Linked DNA regions of Homo sapiens. The protein of the gene in region 1 purifies or fractionates together with the protein of each later gene. This does not show direct contact. Each region holds a gene or a part of one and is shown in the gene's direction. Other genes may lie near its edges.

Region 1 (9,239 bases):
AGATTCTGATATCAGATCTTTGTCTGATGCATAGTTTGCAAATATTTTCTCCCATTCTGTAGGTGTTTCTTGGTTGTCTCGCAAGATTCTTACAGTTTTGAGGTCTGTTTTTTTTTTTAGACGAAGTCTAGCTCTGTCACCCAGGCTGGAGTGCAGTGGCATGATCTCAGCTCACTGCAACCTCTGCCTCCTGGGTTCAAGTGATTTTTCCTTCTCAGCCTCCCAAGTAGCTGAAACTGCAGGCATTTGCCACCACGCCCGGCAAATTTTTTTTTTTTTTTCCATTTTTGTAGAAACAGGGTTTCACCATGTTGGTCAGGCTGGTCTTGAACTCCTGACCTCAGGTGATCTGCCTACCTCGGCCACCCAAAGTGCTGGGATTACAGGGCATGAGCCATAGCACCCTGCTGAGGTCTTAAATTTAAATCTTTAATCCATCTTGAGTTAATCTTTTTATATGGTGAAAGTGAAGGTCCAGCTTCATTCTTCTGCATATGGCTAGCTAGCTATCCTAGTACCATTTATTGAATAGGTAGTCCTTTCCCCACTGCCTATTTTTGTTGACTTTGTCAAAGATCAGATGGCTGTAGGTATGTGGCTTTATTTCTGGGTTCTTTATTCTGTTCCATTGGTCTATGTGTTTGTCTTTTTACCAGTACCATGCTGTTTTGGTTACTGTAGCCTTATAGTTTGAATTCAGGTAATGTGATGCTTCCAGCTTTGTTCTTTCTGCTTAGAATTTCTTTGGCTATTTGGGCTCTTTTTTGGTTCCATATGTATTTTAAAATATTTTTTTCTACTTCTATGAAAAATGACATTGGTAGTTTGATAGTAATAGCATGGAATCTATAGATTGCTTTGGACAATATGGCCATTTTAATGATACTGATCTTCCAATCCATGAGCGTGGAATGTTTTTCCATTTGTTTGTATCATCTGTGATTTCTTTGAGCAGTGTTTCATAGTTCTCCTTGTAGAGATCTTTCACCTCTTTGGTTAGATGTATTTCTAGGTATTTTATTTCTTTTGTGGATATTGTAAATGGGATTGAATTCTTTTTTTTTTTTTCTTGATACAAGGTCTCTCTTTGTCACCCAGGCTGGCGTGCAGTGGTGCAGCCACTGCAGCCTCGACCTCTAAGGTTCAATCAATTCTCCCACCTCAGCCTCCTGCGTAGCTGAGTAGCTGGCACTACAGATGTGTGCCACCACGCCCAGCTAATTTTTTTTATTTTTTGTAGAGATGGGGTTTCACCATGTTGCTCAGGCTGGGGGAGTCTGTGTGTGTGTGTTTGTGTTAACCAAAATAGGATCATTTGCTGATTATCTACTTTAAAAACATAATTTATGGACCGGGCATGGTGGCTCACGCCCGTAATCCCAGCACTTTGGGAGGCTGAGGCAGGAGGATCGCTTGAACCTAGGAGTTCGAGACCAGCTTGGGCAACACGGTGAGACCTCATCTCTACAAAGAAAACAAAAAAACAAAACCAAAAAAACCCATAATTTATGGTAAACACTTTTTCAAGTTAACAAATATACTTCTAACTCTCATTGTAATGCCTGGTGTTCTCTATCCCTTAGAAGCCTTGATATCATCTTTGATGAGTCAATCTTCCTCATCCTTTACTTCCAGCTGGGTATCAAGTCCTTCCATTACTACCTCTGGAATATGATATATCTGTCTGTCCCTCTCTGATCCCACTATTTTTGGCCTGGCTCAGCTCTCCTCTTTTGTTTTGTTTTGTTTTGTTTTGTTTTGTTTTGTTTTGTTTTGTTTTGTTTTGTGACAGAGTCTTGTTCTGTCTCCCAGGCTGGAGTGCAGTGGCATGATCTCTGCTCTCTGCAACGTCTGCCTCCTGGATTCAAGTGATTTTCCTGCCTCAGCCTCCTGAGTAGTTGGGATTACAGGTGCATGCCACCATGCCCAGCTAATTTTTGTATTTTTAGTAGAGACGTGATTTCGCCATGTTGGCCAGGCTGGTCTCAAACTCCTGACCTCAGGTGATCCACCTGCCTTGGCCTCCCAAAGTGCTGGGATTATAGGCATGAGCCACTGCACTTGGCAGCTCTCCTCATTTATAATCTAGATTGTTGAAGTTTTTTTCCTACCTGATTTCCAGTCATCTATACCTACAATTTTTCTGAACTCTGATTATTTATTTCTGTTAGGTTGCAGATGTTAAATTGAAATTCTTTATCATTTTAGAGTCCTCTGGTAGCCTCTTTTTAACCTTATTACCTACCTATCATTTTTCTTTCTTCCTTCTTCCCTTCTTCTCTTCCCATGCTGGGAGTGCGATGGCGTGATCTCGGCTCACTGCAACCTCCGCCTCCCAGGTTCAAGCAATTCTTCTGCCTCAGCCCCCTGAGTAGCTGGGATTATAGGCACATGTCACCACACCCGGCTAATTTTTGTATTTTTAGTGGAGGTGGGGTTTCACCATGTTGGTCAGGCTGGTCTCGAACTCCTGACGTCAGGGGTGATCCGCCCACCTCAGCCTCCCAAAGTGCTGGGATTACAGGCGTGAGTCACCACACCCAGCCCTTTCCTCTGTTTCTCCTTCTCTTCTTTCCTTCCTCTCTTCCTTCTCTCCCTCTCTTCTCTCTCCCTCCTCCTTCTTCTGCCCCCTGAAATACTTGGACTTCTTTTTTTTCTTTTTCAAGATAGGATATCACTCTGTCACTCAGGCTGGAGTGCAGTGGTGCGATCTTGGCTCACTGCAACCTCCGCCTCCTGGGTTCAAGCTGTTCTCCTGCCTCGGTCTGCCAAGTAGCTGGGATTACAGGCACACGCCACTATGCCTGGCTAATTTTTTGTATTTTTAGTGGAGACTGGGTTTCACCATGTTGGCCAGGCTGGTCTCGAACTCCTGACCTCAGGTAATCCACCCACCTCGGCCTCCCAAAGTGCTGGGATTACAGATGTGAGCCACTGCGCCCGGCCAGGACTTCTTTATATATTGGTATTATTGCTTATTCTTACCAAGTATGCCATACATTTTCATTGCTTTTCCCTCAGTGTGGAATGCGTCTCTACTTTTTGAAATTCTGTTTAATCACCAACCGTAGATTAAATGCCATCTTCTTTTGAAGTCCTCTTCAATTGGAATTAATACCTACCTTTTCGGCTCTTACATTGTATTTTTTGTATGTTTCATTTATATTCTTCCTTGTATTATAATATTCCTATCTTGTTCCTACATGGATATTTCTTTTTTTGTATTTTAAAGATTCACAAATTATTTAACTCATTACAATGATAATCACCAGCAAGTAGTCTTTAAGAAATATTAACATTAAGCTTTTTCTTTCAAAGAAAATGCCAGGAACTTACCAAATCATAAATAAAATGTTTTATCTAATGAATTTTTTGTTAGTATAATTCTAAGCAATCTCTTTGTTATGATTTTGCCCCTTTTAGGCTGGATCAGTGCATGTAAGAATTCGACGAGATGCCAATGAACAAATGGTTCTTGCTCATGTGACCAACAGGCTGTACACTCTAGTGTCTACTCTAACTGTTCAAATTTTCAAGGATGACTGGATTAGGCCTGCCTTATTGTCTGGGCCTGTTGCAGCCAATGTCCTAAACTTTTCAGATCATCACGTAATCCCAATGCCTCTTTTAAAGGGTACTGATGATTTGAACCCAGTTACATCAACTCCAGCTAAACCTAGTAGTCCACCTCCAGAATTTTCATTTAACACTCCTGGGAAAAATGTGAACCCAGTTATTCTTCTAAACACACAAACAAGGCCTTATGGTTTTGGTCTCAATCATGGACACACACCTTACAGCAGCATGCTTAATCAAGGACTTGGAGTTCCAGGAATTGGAGCAACTCAAGGATTGAGGACTGGTTTTACAAATATACCAAGTAGATATGGAACTAATAATAGAATTGGACAACCAAGACCATGATAGACTCTAACTTATTTTTATAAGGAATATTGACTCCTTGGCTTCCAATTTATTTAGTAATCCAACTTTGCATTGACTGTTTAATCATTTACTCTAAATGTTAGATAATAGTAGTCTTGTTCACATTTCATGAAACCTATGAAACTATATTTTTGTAAAATGTATTTGTGACAGTGAAATCCTCGTAAATGTTAAAGGCTTTAAATAGGCTTCCTTTAGAAAATGTGTTTCTTTAAATTTGGATTTTGGTATCTTTGGTTTTGTAGTTGACTGCAGTGTGATGTGACCTTACCTTTATAAGAGCCACTTGATGGAGTAGATCTGTCACATTACTAAGATACGATATTTCTTTTTTTTTCCGAGACGGAGTCTTGCTCTGCCACTGTGCCCGGCCAATACATTATTATTAACTTAAGGCTGTACTTTATTAAGGCTTCCTTAGTTTTTGTTTTGTTTTGTTTTTTGAGATGGAGTCTCACTCTGTCGCCCAGGCTGGAATGCAGTGGCATGATCTCAGCTCACTGCAACCTCTGCCTCCTGAGTTCAAATGATTCTCCTGCCTCAGCCTCCCGAGTAGCTGGGATTACAGGCACCTGCCACCACGCCCAGCTAATTTTTGTATTTTTAGTAAAGACGGGGGATTTCACCATGTTGGCCAGGCTGGTCTTGAACTCCTGACCTCATGATCCACCCACCTTAGCCTCCCAAAGTGCTGGGATTAGGTGTGAGCCACCGCACCTGGCCGATATTTTCTTTAATGAAATTTATAAATATGCTTCTTGAATAATACACATTTTGGGAAAGGGAAAAATGTCTGTTCAAAAAGTAAAAGTCTCTTTTATAGCTTTTCCAAACTTAATTGCTAAATTTTTCTTTGAGGTTCTCCTGAATTATGTCTTACAAACTAAAAGCAAAAATTTTTAGCAGAAATTTTGGAATACATTCTATCTAGCACAATTTGAATTTTTAATTATCAAGATTTTTGTTAAAGTTTCTCTCCTTTAAAAATTTTAGTACATTTGTAAATAGTCCATGGTTCTCAGTGTTTTATTTTGATTAAGTGACTACCCAACTTTTGGTGATATGCAGTGAAAGAATCCCAATTTTCTATGTTACATTTAATCAAATACTGACATAATGAATTTATCTTTCCTGACACATTTTCATTCATTGGCTTTTTAATTTCTTATTTTATTAACAAAATATATCAGATATATTACCAAAACACATGGAGTTCCATACATAATATGGAATTTGATGTCTTTTCAAGTTGCACAAAGAATTTGAGCATATATAATTTTACCAAAGCATAATGGACCTTAGATTATAGAATACAGCATTGTTAGGTCTGCAGTGGGCAGTTTCTTTTTGTTTTGCTTTGTCAAAAATGGGAAATTGTTAACTGTGATGAAATGTGAGAATTACATAGATTATGTTATTTTTTAGTTGTTTTCCAAATGCAGAGTTTAAGGACTTTCTAACATGGCTAGTATTACTTCCAAAAAGTATAACAAGCAGCAGTCACACATGACCTAGGAGGGTTTTTTATTGTTTTATTTTATTATGCATTCCATAACAGTTTTAAAATGGGATTTTGAGAATGGACTTAACTTTCCTGGAATCCAATGCTCCTGGAGATTTATGACTTTCCCAGCCATCAGCCAGCTATCTAGAGAAGATTTTTGTTTTTCTTTTGCAACAGTTTCTTCAGTCAACTCATTCACTTTCAAATAGGAGCAGCACTTTGAAATCCTTTTTCTTCACTGTGGATTAAAAACATCCAAGAAGCCATCTCTGTCAAGCAGAATTGTCATCTGTGGTAATAAGTGACCATGTCCTAAATACCTTTTTCTTAGTGAGGAGTTGGTCATTGTCTTTGGCATCTGCAACCCCTGTTCAGGCATGTGACCTGCTAAAGAAATACAGCCTACACTACCTTGACTACTGGGGAAAATGATACTTCGTAAAATGTAATAAGGCAACCTGTTCCTTGGCCTTTATCTTATGTTTTCCAACTATTACTGTATCTGTTATTGGTCTACTATTACAGGATGATTCTTCTTCCTCCATTGATCTCAACTAAATATGAATTAGGGTCATGCATGAAATCTGAACTGCCGTGTCCTGAGTTATGGTTAAGAGGTATGTGCTGCCACCCCATGCATGTCTTCCCCATCCCCATAGGATTTTAAAGTGTTCAGGTACCAAACACAGTTCTGTGTGAGGTTTTATGCCTACTTCCTCAACACCAATTCAGAGGCAACACCTGTGCATCTGTCCCACCAAAGGTGCTTTAATACCTACCTTCACTATTTGAGAAAGGACACTCACAGTTGCCTGTGGGTTATGAAAGAATTGGCCCTACGTCCTGCATGTAAGATGTTACAGGGGACATTGGGCCAGGCATTATTATATAGAGAAGTCTTATTTGCCAAGCTCTGACTAACTTCTGGATATGAAAATAAGGAACTTGCCCAGCATAGGCCTATAGGCAGCAGCCTTACTAGTAAATCTTGCCACAGAATCACTTGAAGCTAGACAGAGAAAGAAGTTCAATTTAAATATTTGTCCCATTGTTTGTGATTAGGATGTAAGCTTTGTGGAATGTAATTAACCCTGCTTTACGAAGTCACCATATTATAATAGGAAAAACACTGCCTAGGAGGCAAGAGATCTGAATTCCAGTTCTGATGCTGCCACTGTGTAAGGAAGTAGTTTTATAACCCATGGGCAAATCATCTGAGCTTTCTCATCTGTAAAGTTAGGGAGAGGAATTAATTAGTTGATCTGTAAAATAATCAGCTTCAAAACGTTATGGCTAAATCTGTAGAATGTATGCCCAATTGCTAAACGGATGTTGTGCCCAGAATTTTATCTAGTGACTACCTCAACATACAGGCCAAGCGTTACCTACACCAACACCCAAGCCATTAATTTGAGGTGCCATGAGAATAGGTGAACCACAGCCTAACACCATTTAGGTTTTTGTGTTTTTTTCAGGCTTGCCTCTACTTAAATATATTTAGATGAGAGAGTTCTCTTAGACTTCTTTCTTTGTAAGGAAGGGTTATTTGGGGAAGTGTTGGAAAAAAGATTAGGGCAGGGTACCCTTAGTTTATATAGGGTACAAAAGAATGGGAAACATCTTCCCTTTCTTCTTTAATCTCTGAAGTCATGTTTGGAATTACATATAATGTAGCAGGTACTGGAGAGGACCTGAATTTCAAGCTTCTGATTTAGCTGTTTGTAAACTTCCAAGTTTTGCTTGACTAAAGAATGCTGATCTTTTTTGGGAGTCTGATCTCCTTCTAATATCAGAAAGTGCTTTTTATATTCCAGATTGCTTGAATTAAACTGTTTGGATTAAAGAACATATATGGAGTTTCCTCTCTGGTTTTAAATAATCTTTCTTTATTCAGTAGCTATTAATAATTTATCTCATATTCAGCGAATATTTATTGAGAATATTGTTGAGAATCTCTTACATGCCAGGCACTATACTAAGTTAATATGCATTCAGTATACCAGTTGGTGTGACCCAGACCAAAGGTAACACAAAGATGAATGAGAATTCCTTCAAGGCGCCGATAATCCTAGTAGGAGAGCTAAGACACAAAACTGTTGCATGTTTTTAATCATCAAATTAAACTTCTTTCCACGTCCTTATCTTCTTTGGCATCCTTTTGCAAGATTTTTTTTAACTACCAGGCTTAAAATAATGAGGTCCCAGAGCACTTACTGGCTTCGAGTACACTTTATTTAAGCAGTTACTAGTTTAAAAGCACCTGTAATAACACTGAGATCATCATCATCAAATTGCCACCCAACAAGCCTAGCTTCTTGCAGAAAAGTTAACTTGGATAACACTTGGCTAAGTTTTCTGACTAATGCTGGATCAGGTAGAAATTCTTTAGTACTAAAGTCAAAAAACACTAATTGCTTAAGATTCTCAAATACACCCATGAAGGCAAGCCATCCATCACTGCTCACACGATTTCCCGCCAAATTCAACTGCTGGAAGTTTTTCAGAGGGTTCTTTCCAAAAAATGCACCTGGGTAAAGAAATAAGTATATTAGTTGGAAGAAAAATTTTTTTTAAAAAAAAAGAGAAATAGGTTCTACATTTATTTTACATACTTTTTTTTCACTCTGAAATGGCCATGTTTGAACCAGTGCTTTGCCTCAGAAAGAAATTATTAATATAATTCTCTATAGCTAGGGCAGTGATTGTGAATATGGTCTATTATATTTTCCTAGAGTATAAGGGAATCTGATAAATAGTGATTCGTAGTGAGGTAGCAACAATATGTAAATGAATTACTTTTTTTTCCCCTTTTCCTTACTCCTAGGAAATGGAAGGTTGCTTTAATTAAATATTCAGTACTTGTTTTCAAAACTGGAGTCAATCTTTGGCAATATTAAGTCGTTTCCTCTTCTGAAAAAGTAAACACCACCTAACTGTTGTTTCTATGGGTATGTTCCTAACTGTAAACTTGAGTAAGTGAGCCTCCTTCAGTATCTAAAGATTTGGGTGTTTTTGTTTACCTGTTTATGTATAACCCTCCCGAGCCTCTTCAGGAAGTTCCTCCATTCCTTACAGAATAGGGCACCTAAAGTATTTCCTACATAGGGTAGGTGGATATCCTGTCTTTCTGATACACAAAGAATGCACACACACACACATACATACAAAGGATGTGTGTGTGTGTGTGTGTGTGTGTGTGTGTGTGTGTATACATACACAAATAGTTTAGTGTTCATTCTTTATCCCATGTTACCAGTTTAGGTGGTACTGGAACCCAAGTGAGTCTTGCAATAAGAAAAAATACCTTTCTTTCAGGTTATTTACCATCATACAGATTGGCCAGTATACAACATTAGGATTTCACAAAACTAGCTCTGTGTTAATTACACATATTAAATTGTGCAAAGCGTTAGCCCTACCCACCTACCTGGCCCTTTCTGGATGACTAAGTTCACCTTGAAGTACAGAGTGGACAGACAGGCAGACTGGACATGGGAACTCTTACTTACATGTTTATACTCCAGAGTATCACACACAAAATGCAGAAGATGTATGCCTGGTTTATCAATCCACATTACTCGGCTCATCCGAGCTCATCTTAGTCTTAGTGTACCTCACCCAACTTTGGAGGGTTAATTTGTTGTATATTAAACTTGTGTTTCTTGGGAGATGTGTAATATTAGATAATGTTCCAGAAACTGACCCTTATGGAAATGAAGGTCCATGATTCAGTTTGGATTCCAAGTAGGAAAAGAGGTTTTAAAAGTTCCTTTCCATTGTCTCAGTGAGA
Region 2 (8,119 bases), on another chromosome or scaffold:
TTTTGGGTTGAGGACATGGGGGTTGTGGCCTCAATTCCAGGAAAACCATGGCTTTGGGGGCAGCTATTGTGTTGAGGGATTAGGGGAATGAGAAGGGTTGTAGGTGGGGGTGGAGGGTGGGCATGGGAGGGGCCACAGGCTGGCGGTCACTTCCTTTGGGAGCTTTGAACTTTGAACAGTTGATGACCTGGTGCCTGGTAGCTCTGAGTGTCTAGTTTGTTTACTCTCTCCTGGCCTGGCCCAGGTGCCAGAGTGTGTGCCTGAGGGCTTCCTCCTGCGCCCCAGACTTTCCTCATGTGGGTTATGCCCTTCCTGACTCCCACCTGGTCTCTCAGCCTCACTCCTGGGCTGTCTGGGTAGCCAGCCAGTTCCCTGGAGGCCCCCTCACTGGCCCTGGTAGTGGCTATTCATTGAGGACTGCATGTGTCTTCAGAAACTGGGCCTGAAAACTCTGGGTCCCCCAGAGGCAGGTACCTAAAGGTGGACTGGGTGGGGCAGAACTGGGGCTCATGTGAAAGGGAGAATCCACCCTGCTGAGGTGGAGCTGGGAGTTGTTGGAACTCAGGAAGCCTTCATCTGGACTTGCTGTGTCACAGGTCTTCAGGGCAGCAGGGCTGTTCTTAATCCTTCAAACCAGAGGTCTCTCCTCAGCCAGATCCTCTCACCTGGGGTGGACGCCACAGGCAGGAGCCAGAGCATCCACGTGAGCTGGGTTTTGTTGGTGGCCTGGGGTCCCAGGCCTGAGTGTGGTGGGAAAACTGAGGGGCTCTGGCTGGTTGTAGTTTAAAGGTTTGGGGCAGTAGGAGGGCCCAGCCCACTGTCTGCTGTAATTGACAGGTTCCCACAGGACTTGGGATTGGTAGGGCAGCTTGATGGAGTTTAAGTTCTGCTTTGGGTCAGACCCCCGGGTGCTTTAAGATCTGCACACCCCACCCCATCACCATTTCTTCCCCCTAGCATTTTCCAAGGTGGCCTGAATTAGAGGAGTTGGGGAGGTGCCGAGGTAGGAGCTGGATTGGGAGGGGTGGTGAGCAGACCTGGTGAGCCTCCACTTCCCACCTTCACTTCCCTGCCCTTCTTTTGAGGTAGGAATTGCAGGGCTTGTAAAATGTCAATTTCCCTTGACATTTTAAACAGTTTAGAGTCAGGCAGCAGTTTTGGTTGTTAGACTGATGATTTTACAGGACCCAGGGCCCTTTCTGTCTGCCAAGTAGTTTATCATCACTTACAAGAGATTATTGTGATTATTCTCTAATATTCAGAGAGGTTGGATGATGGGCTGAAGGTCACACAGCAAGTCAGAGGCAGAGCGGGATTACAACCTGCAGTGTGTGGTTGAGCAGAATAGCTCTCCAGCAGAGGCTGAGGGCCAAATCTGAGCTGTCAGGCCCTTGAAGATAACTGTAGCTGAAATAGTGGAGGCTTAGAGAGGGGAGGGGACTTGCTCAAGGTCACACGGAAGGGGATGTTAGCGGAACTGAGCGCCAGGCGGTGCACCTGGAAGAGCAGCAGGGAACCTGGCGAGGCCGCAGGAGCTCTCCCGCTCGCGTTCCTCCATGGCCCGCGGGATTGCTGCCTTCCGGGGGAGATGGGATCGCAGCGGGAGGCGCCGCGGGGCTGCGGCTGCGCCGGCCCAGCCGCGGGGAAACGCCAAGGGCCGCCCGGCTCCCCGCGCGGCGGCGTGAGGGCTGGCTAATGTCACGTGAGAAGCGTGCAGTCGGCGTGAGGGAGCACACCTGGAGCCAGATAAGCTCCGTGTGACCTGGCAGGGAGTCACCCGGCGCTGCGGAGCTCAGCACAGCCGGCCGGGAGGAGGCTCCCCCTGGAGCACGGGGCCAGGCCAGGTGCTGGCTACCCCTCCGGCCGCTGCTACAACCCTTGGCGAGGGGCAGAGCGCGGGGAGAGAGCCGGGGTCCCGGGGCTGGAGGAAACGGCCGCTCAGGGAGGTCAGAGGCCAAGGGAGAGAGGCCGGCTCTCTCGGGAAAGTATTTCCTTTGTATTTATTTATGAGTGTGGTCTGGGGGTGGGGGTGGGAGGACTGACCTAAGTATCTATCCACCACAGCCAACTCTGGGCACCCTTGTCTTGGGACTCTAACGTTATAGTTTCCATTTCCTGGGTTTTTTTTTTCTTTTGCCAGCTGCTAGGTGACCCATTTAAATGTGTCCCCACTTACAGCCACAAGACACCAGTGAACTCTATTTTAACCAAGTCCCCCAAGCCACTGAAACTTTTTCAAGACATGAAGGCAATCCTTAAACTGACCATTACCCTGTTTGCAGCTTTACTGCTGGTGGATTGCCTACTAGTTTGTCCATTTTTTTTTAGTCTGGAAAAAAGTTGAATCATTAGGTAGAAAGCTAAAGCGTTACTAAAGTGTTACCCTTCTTCTCCCCTACTCTCCAGAGATGACCACTGATAAATTTTTGGATCGAATTTTTCCAGACTGCTGTTTTTTTTGAGAAGGAGTCTCGCTCTGTCACCCAGGCTGGAGTGCAGTGGCGCAATCTTGGCTCACTGCAACCTCCGCCTCCGGGGTTCAAGCAATTCTCTGCCTCAGCCTCCCGAGCAGCTGGGATTACAGGCGCCCGCCACCACGCCCGGCTACTTTTTTGTATTTTTAGTAGAGACAGGGTTTCACCATCTTGGCCAGGCTGGTCTTGAACTCCTGACCTCGTCATCCACCTGCCTCGGCCTCCCAAAGTGCTGGGATTACAGGTGTGAGCCACTGCGCCTGGCCAGACTGCTTTTTAAAAGCTTGTTATATATATTTTAGGCACTATATATGTTTATAGTTTAATATATGTTTTATAAAATATCATCTTATATAAATATTTAAAAAATTTCTGTAGTAGGCCGGACACAGTGGTTCACACCTGTAATCCCAGGACTTTGGGAGGCTGAGATAGGCAGATTGCTTGAGCCCAGGAATTTGAGACCAGGCTGGGCAACATGGCAAGACCCTGTCTCTACAAAAAATACAGAAGTTAGCTGGGTGTGGTGGCGAGTGCCTGTAGTCCCAGCTACTCAGGAGGCTGCGGTGGGAAGGATCGCTTGAGTCCCAGGAGGTTGAGGCTGCAGTGAGCCGAGATCGCACCACACTCTAGCCTGGAGGACACAGTGGGACCCTGTCTCAAAAAAAAAAAAAAAAAAGATGAAATAAAAGTAGAAGAAAAATGATAGATAATTCCACTCCCTGAAGCTCCTAGGTGTAAGCAAATACACATTTACCAGATGAATGTTCTTATAAAAAATTAAAATATAGCCCGAGTGCGGTGGCCCATGCCTATAATCCAGTACTTTGGAGGCCAAGGTGGGTGGACCACTTGAAGCCAGGAGTTCAAGATCAGCCTGACCAACATGGTGAGACCCCATCTCTGTTATTTAAAAAAAAAGAAAAAAAATTAAAATATGGATGAAACACAAGTCTATTTGACCCTTCTAAAATTCCAGTCTCCTCCCCAGAGCATATATTTTTCCTACACATATGCAAATATTGTACACAACGTACATGTAATATATTCATGCACATATATAGATATAGGTTTTTAAATTTTAGCAAAATTATAAACTATCCTGCAACCTATTTTTTCACTTAACAATATAGTATAGAATCTTTCCAGGTCAGTGTATACAAATCTACTTCATTCTTTTTACTTTTAATTATACAACTGCTCAGTTGTATAATTTAGCTTTTTTTTTTGAGACAGAGTCTCGCCCTTTCGCGCAGGCTGGAGTGCTGCAATGGCGTGATCTCGGCTCACTGCAACCTCCGCTTCCTGGATTCAAGCGATTCTCCTGCCTCAGCCTCCTGAGTAGCTGGGATTACAGGTGCGCCACTACGCCGGCAAAGTTTTGTATTTTTAGTGGAGATGGGGTTTCACCATGTTGGCCAGGCTAGTCTCGAACTTCTGACCTCAAGTGATCTGCCTGCCTCAGCCTCCCAAAATGTTGGGATTACAGTTGTGAGCCACCATGCCCAGCATTTTATTTTTTTTTATTTTTTTTATTTTTTGAGACATAATCTCCCTCCACCCAGGCTGGAGCACAGTAGCACGAATCTTGGCTCATGCAGCCTTGACTTCTAGGCTCAAGTGATCCTCCCACCTCAGCCTCCCAAGTAGCTGGTATCACAGGTGTGCACCACTGCCTAGCTACTTTTAAAAAATTTTTTTGTAGAGTCAGAGTCTCACTGTGTTGTCTAGGCTGGTCTCAAACTCCTGGACTCAAGCAGTCCTCCCGCCTTGGCCTCCCAAAGTGCTGGAATTAGAGGCCTGAGCCGCTGCACCTGGCCAGTTTTACTATTCTCTAGTAAGGACTTTTATATTTATAGACTTGCTATTATAAACAATGCTGCAAGGATTAGCCATGTATATTATGTGAATGTACCTATAGATGTCTTATAATGGAATTGCCCAAAGAATATGTACATAAATATTTTCATATGCCAGGTGCAGTGGTGGTGCCTGTAATCCTAGCTACTCAGGAGGCTGAGGCAGGAGGATTGCTTGGGGCCAGGAGTTTGAGACCAGCCTGGACAGAATAGCAAGAACCTGTCTCTAAAACAATTTTTAAAAAGTTAGCCAGTAATGGTGGCGCACACCTGTAGTCACAGCTACTCAGGAGGCTAAGACAGGAGGATCACTTGAGCCCAGGAGTTCAAGTCTGTAGTGATCTATGATTGAGCCACCAAACTCCAGCCTGGGTGACAAAGCAAGACCTTGTCTCTTAAAAAAATTTTTTTTTTTCACAGATACCACTGACTTGACCTCTGAAAATACATTAGTTGGTGCAAAAGTAATTGAGGTTTTTGCCATTAAAAAGTAACGGCAGGCCGGGTGCGGTGGCTCACGCCTGTAATCCCAGCACTTTGGGAGCCGAGGCGGGCGGATCACGAGGTCAGGAGATCGAGACCATCCTGGGTAACATGGTGAAACCCCGTCTCTACTAAAAATACAAAAAATTAGCCAGGCGCGGTGGCGGGCGCCTGTAGTACCAGCTACTCGGGAGGCTGAGGCAGGAGAATGGCGTGAACCCGGGAGGCGGAGCTTGCAGTGAGCAGAGATCGTGCCACTGCACTCTGGCCTGGTGAAAGAGCAAGACTGCGTCTCAAAAAAAAAAAAAAGGGCCGGGCGCAGTGGCTCAAGCCTGTAATCCCAGCACTTTGGAAGGCCGAGGCAGGCAGATCACCTGAGGTCAGGAGTTCAAGACCAGCCTGACCAACATGGAGAAACCCCGTCTCTACTAAAAATACAAAATTAGCCGGTCATGGTGGCGCATGCCTGTAATTCCAGCTACTCAGGAGGCTGAGGCAGGAGAATTGCTTGAACCCGGGAGGCGGATTGCAGTGAGCTGAAATCGGGCCATTGCACTCCAGCCTGGGCAACAAGAGCGAAACTCCGTCTCAAAAAAAAAAAAAGTAACGGCAAAAACCATAATTACTTTTGCACCAACCTACCAATTTGTGTTTCCACCAAGACTTATGAGACTCCCTGCATCCCATGCCCTAATTGATTGATATTATCAACCTTGATAGTTTTTACTAAACTGCTAATTGAAAATAGTATACCTCAATTTCACATGTCTGTGAATGTTATGGAGGCTGAATACCTGTTCATGTTTGATGGCCATTTGTATTTCTGCCCCTACAAATTGCCTGTCCATAGTATCCTTGGCACTAGCTACGTGGGCCCTCTGGACTCAAGCCAGTGTGATCCAGCTTGGCCTTGTGCTTATCAAGTTACCTTCACTTCTTTGGGCTTTACTTTCCATGTACAAAGGTTTTGACTTATTTTAGTCATACTTGTGTACTCTGTTATCCTCTCTACTGTGTCATTTAGACTGCAAAAACTGTGCCCTGCTACTATTAGGTACCTCTCTGAGGGTAATTAAATATATTTCATTTAATTCCCCCACCTTAGGTGGTAGGTACCATTATTATCTCCATTTTTATAGATGGGGAAATGGAGGCATGGAGGCCTTAAGTGATTTGCCTGAGATTTCATAGCTATTTACTCATATTTTTTTTCATTTTTATTTAATTTTTTTTTTTTTAGACAGAGTCTTGTTCTGTCGCCCAGGCTGGAGTGCAGTGGCATGATCTCGGCTCACTGCAACCTCTGCCTCCCAGGTTTCAGCGATTCTCCTGCCTCAGCCTCCTGAGTAGCTGGGATTACAGGCGCATGCCACCATGCCCAGCTATTTTTAGTAGAGACAAGGTTTCACCGTGTTGACCAGGCTGGTTTCGAACACCTGATCTCAGGTGATCTGCCCTCCTCGGCCTTCCAAAGTGCTAGGATTACAGGCGTGAGCCATTGCGCCCGGCCCTGTTTACTCAGATTTGTTCACAGGTTTGTTACTTGATATCCAAAGCCTGAGCTCTGACACTGGGCTTACTTATCTTTATGTTGCTTGCCTTTAGGAAGTGGCTGATAGATACATATTTTTTCCCAAAATTTTATCACAATGACCTGCAAACATTCAGAAAAGTTAAAGAATTTTGCAACGAATACCCTCCATTTCCTAGATTCTACAATTAACATTTTCCTATCCTTGCTTTTACACATCTGTATCCCTTGATCCATCCATCAGGCTATGGTTTTTTTTTTTTTTCTTTCTTTCTTTTGAGACAGGGTCTTACTCTGTTACCCAGGCTGGAATGCAATGGCATGATCGTGGCTCAATGTAGCCTCGACCTCCCAGGCTCAGGTGATCTTCCCACTTTAGCCTCCCAAGTAGCTCCCACAGGCATGCACCACCACATCCAGATAATTTTTTGTATTTTGAGTAGAGACAGGGCTTTGCCATGTTGCCCAGGCTTGTCTCCGACTCCTGAGCTCAAGCGATCTGCCCGTCTCGGCCTCCCAAAGTGTTGGGATTATAGATGTGAGCCACCTTGCCCAACCTCATCAAGCTGTCTTAAAATTTTACACATCTCAAAGTAAAACGTAGACATCAGTATATTTCGCCCCAAATACTTTAACATACATATCATTCACTAGAGTTCAATATTTGTTTATAGTTCTTTTCTTTTGAGTGGATATTTACAAACAATGAATGCACAAATCTTTTTTTTTTTGAGATGGGGTCTTGCTCTGTCTCCCAGGCTAGAGTGCAGTGGCGCAATCATCTTGGCTCACTGCAACCTCCGCCTCCCAGGTTCAAGCGATTCTCCTGCCTCAGCCTCCCTAGTAGCTGGGACTACAGGTGTGTGCTGCCACGCCCGGCTAATTTTTTTTATTTTTATTAGAGACGGGGTTTCAGGATGGTCTCGATCTCTTGGCCTCATGATCCACCTGCCTTGGCCTCCCAAAGTGCTGGTATTACAGGCGTGAGCCAACGCGCCTGGCTGAACGCACAAATCTTATGTGCACCATTTGATAACTTGACAAGTGCATATACTTATCAACCCAAACCGCTATCAATATACAGGACATGAATATCACCCCAAAAAGTTCCCTCATGCGATCCCACTCCTACCCCCACCATAGGTTAGTTTTGCCTGCACTAGAACTTCATATAAAGAGAATCATACCCATATGTGCTCTTTGTCAAAGACTTCTTTCCCTCTCACTTGACATCATGATTTTGAAGTCCATCCCCATTGTGTGTATCTTTAGTTGTTTCTTTTTTCTTGCTGAGTAGTATTCCATTGCATGAATATGAGCATTGTTTATGCACTCTGATGGACAGATAGATGTATATTTGAGGTTGATGGTCATTGCCTTCGGGATGCTTACTCTCTTAAAGTGATAGAGCAGCTGAGTTGACAGATTGTACTTTCTTTTTGTTTTTGGGGATAGTAAGAGCAAGATTATTCGGGTCCATACCCTAACTTACATAGATGCCTTCCTTTTCTTAAAATTAGGAAAAACTTCTTAGAGTATGATGAGGAGAGAAACGCAGAAAAGGAGGTCAGGAAAATTATAAGGTTACCTTTACTGGAGTGGAGGGAGAGGGTAGGAGAGGAATGGGAGGCAGATGGAAACTGCAGCCCGGGATAGGGGGTAGGAAGGTAGTGGTATCAGAGCTGTTGGAGACTTTGGACCTGAGGCCAGGAGGTGCCGGAAAGTGCAAGGTCTACAAGAAGGCCATGGAGCAGCAGTCGCATTGCAGATCT

The links.
Region 2: the proteins of SLC30A6 (region 1) and MYO18A purify together in Homo sapiens (affinity purification with mass spectrometry; 3 studies listed by BioGRID and IntAct, with this or other methods). This does not show direct contact.

Annotation. Positions count from the first base shown.
Region 1 is NC_000002.12:32,216,790-32,226,028, forward strand, and holds the end of SLC30A6 (zinc transporter 6), read left to right. Parts: intron 1-3,423; coding exon 3,424-3,924; 3' UTR 3,925-7,590; downstream 7,591-9,239. Other genes in the region: NLRC4 (NLR family CARD domain-containing protein 4), read right to left, coding at 7,684-7,976. UniProt on the Homo sapiens protein: Has probably no intrinsic transporter activity but together with SLC30A5 forms a functional zinc ion:proton antiporter heterodimer, mediating zinc entry into the lumen of organelles along the secretory pathway.
Region 2 is NC_000017.11:29,170,399-29,178,517, reverse strand, and holds part of MYO18A (unconventional myosin-XVIIIa), read left to right. Parts: intron 1-1,744; exon of another isoform or gene 1,745-1,946; intron 1,947-8,119.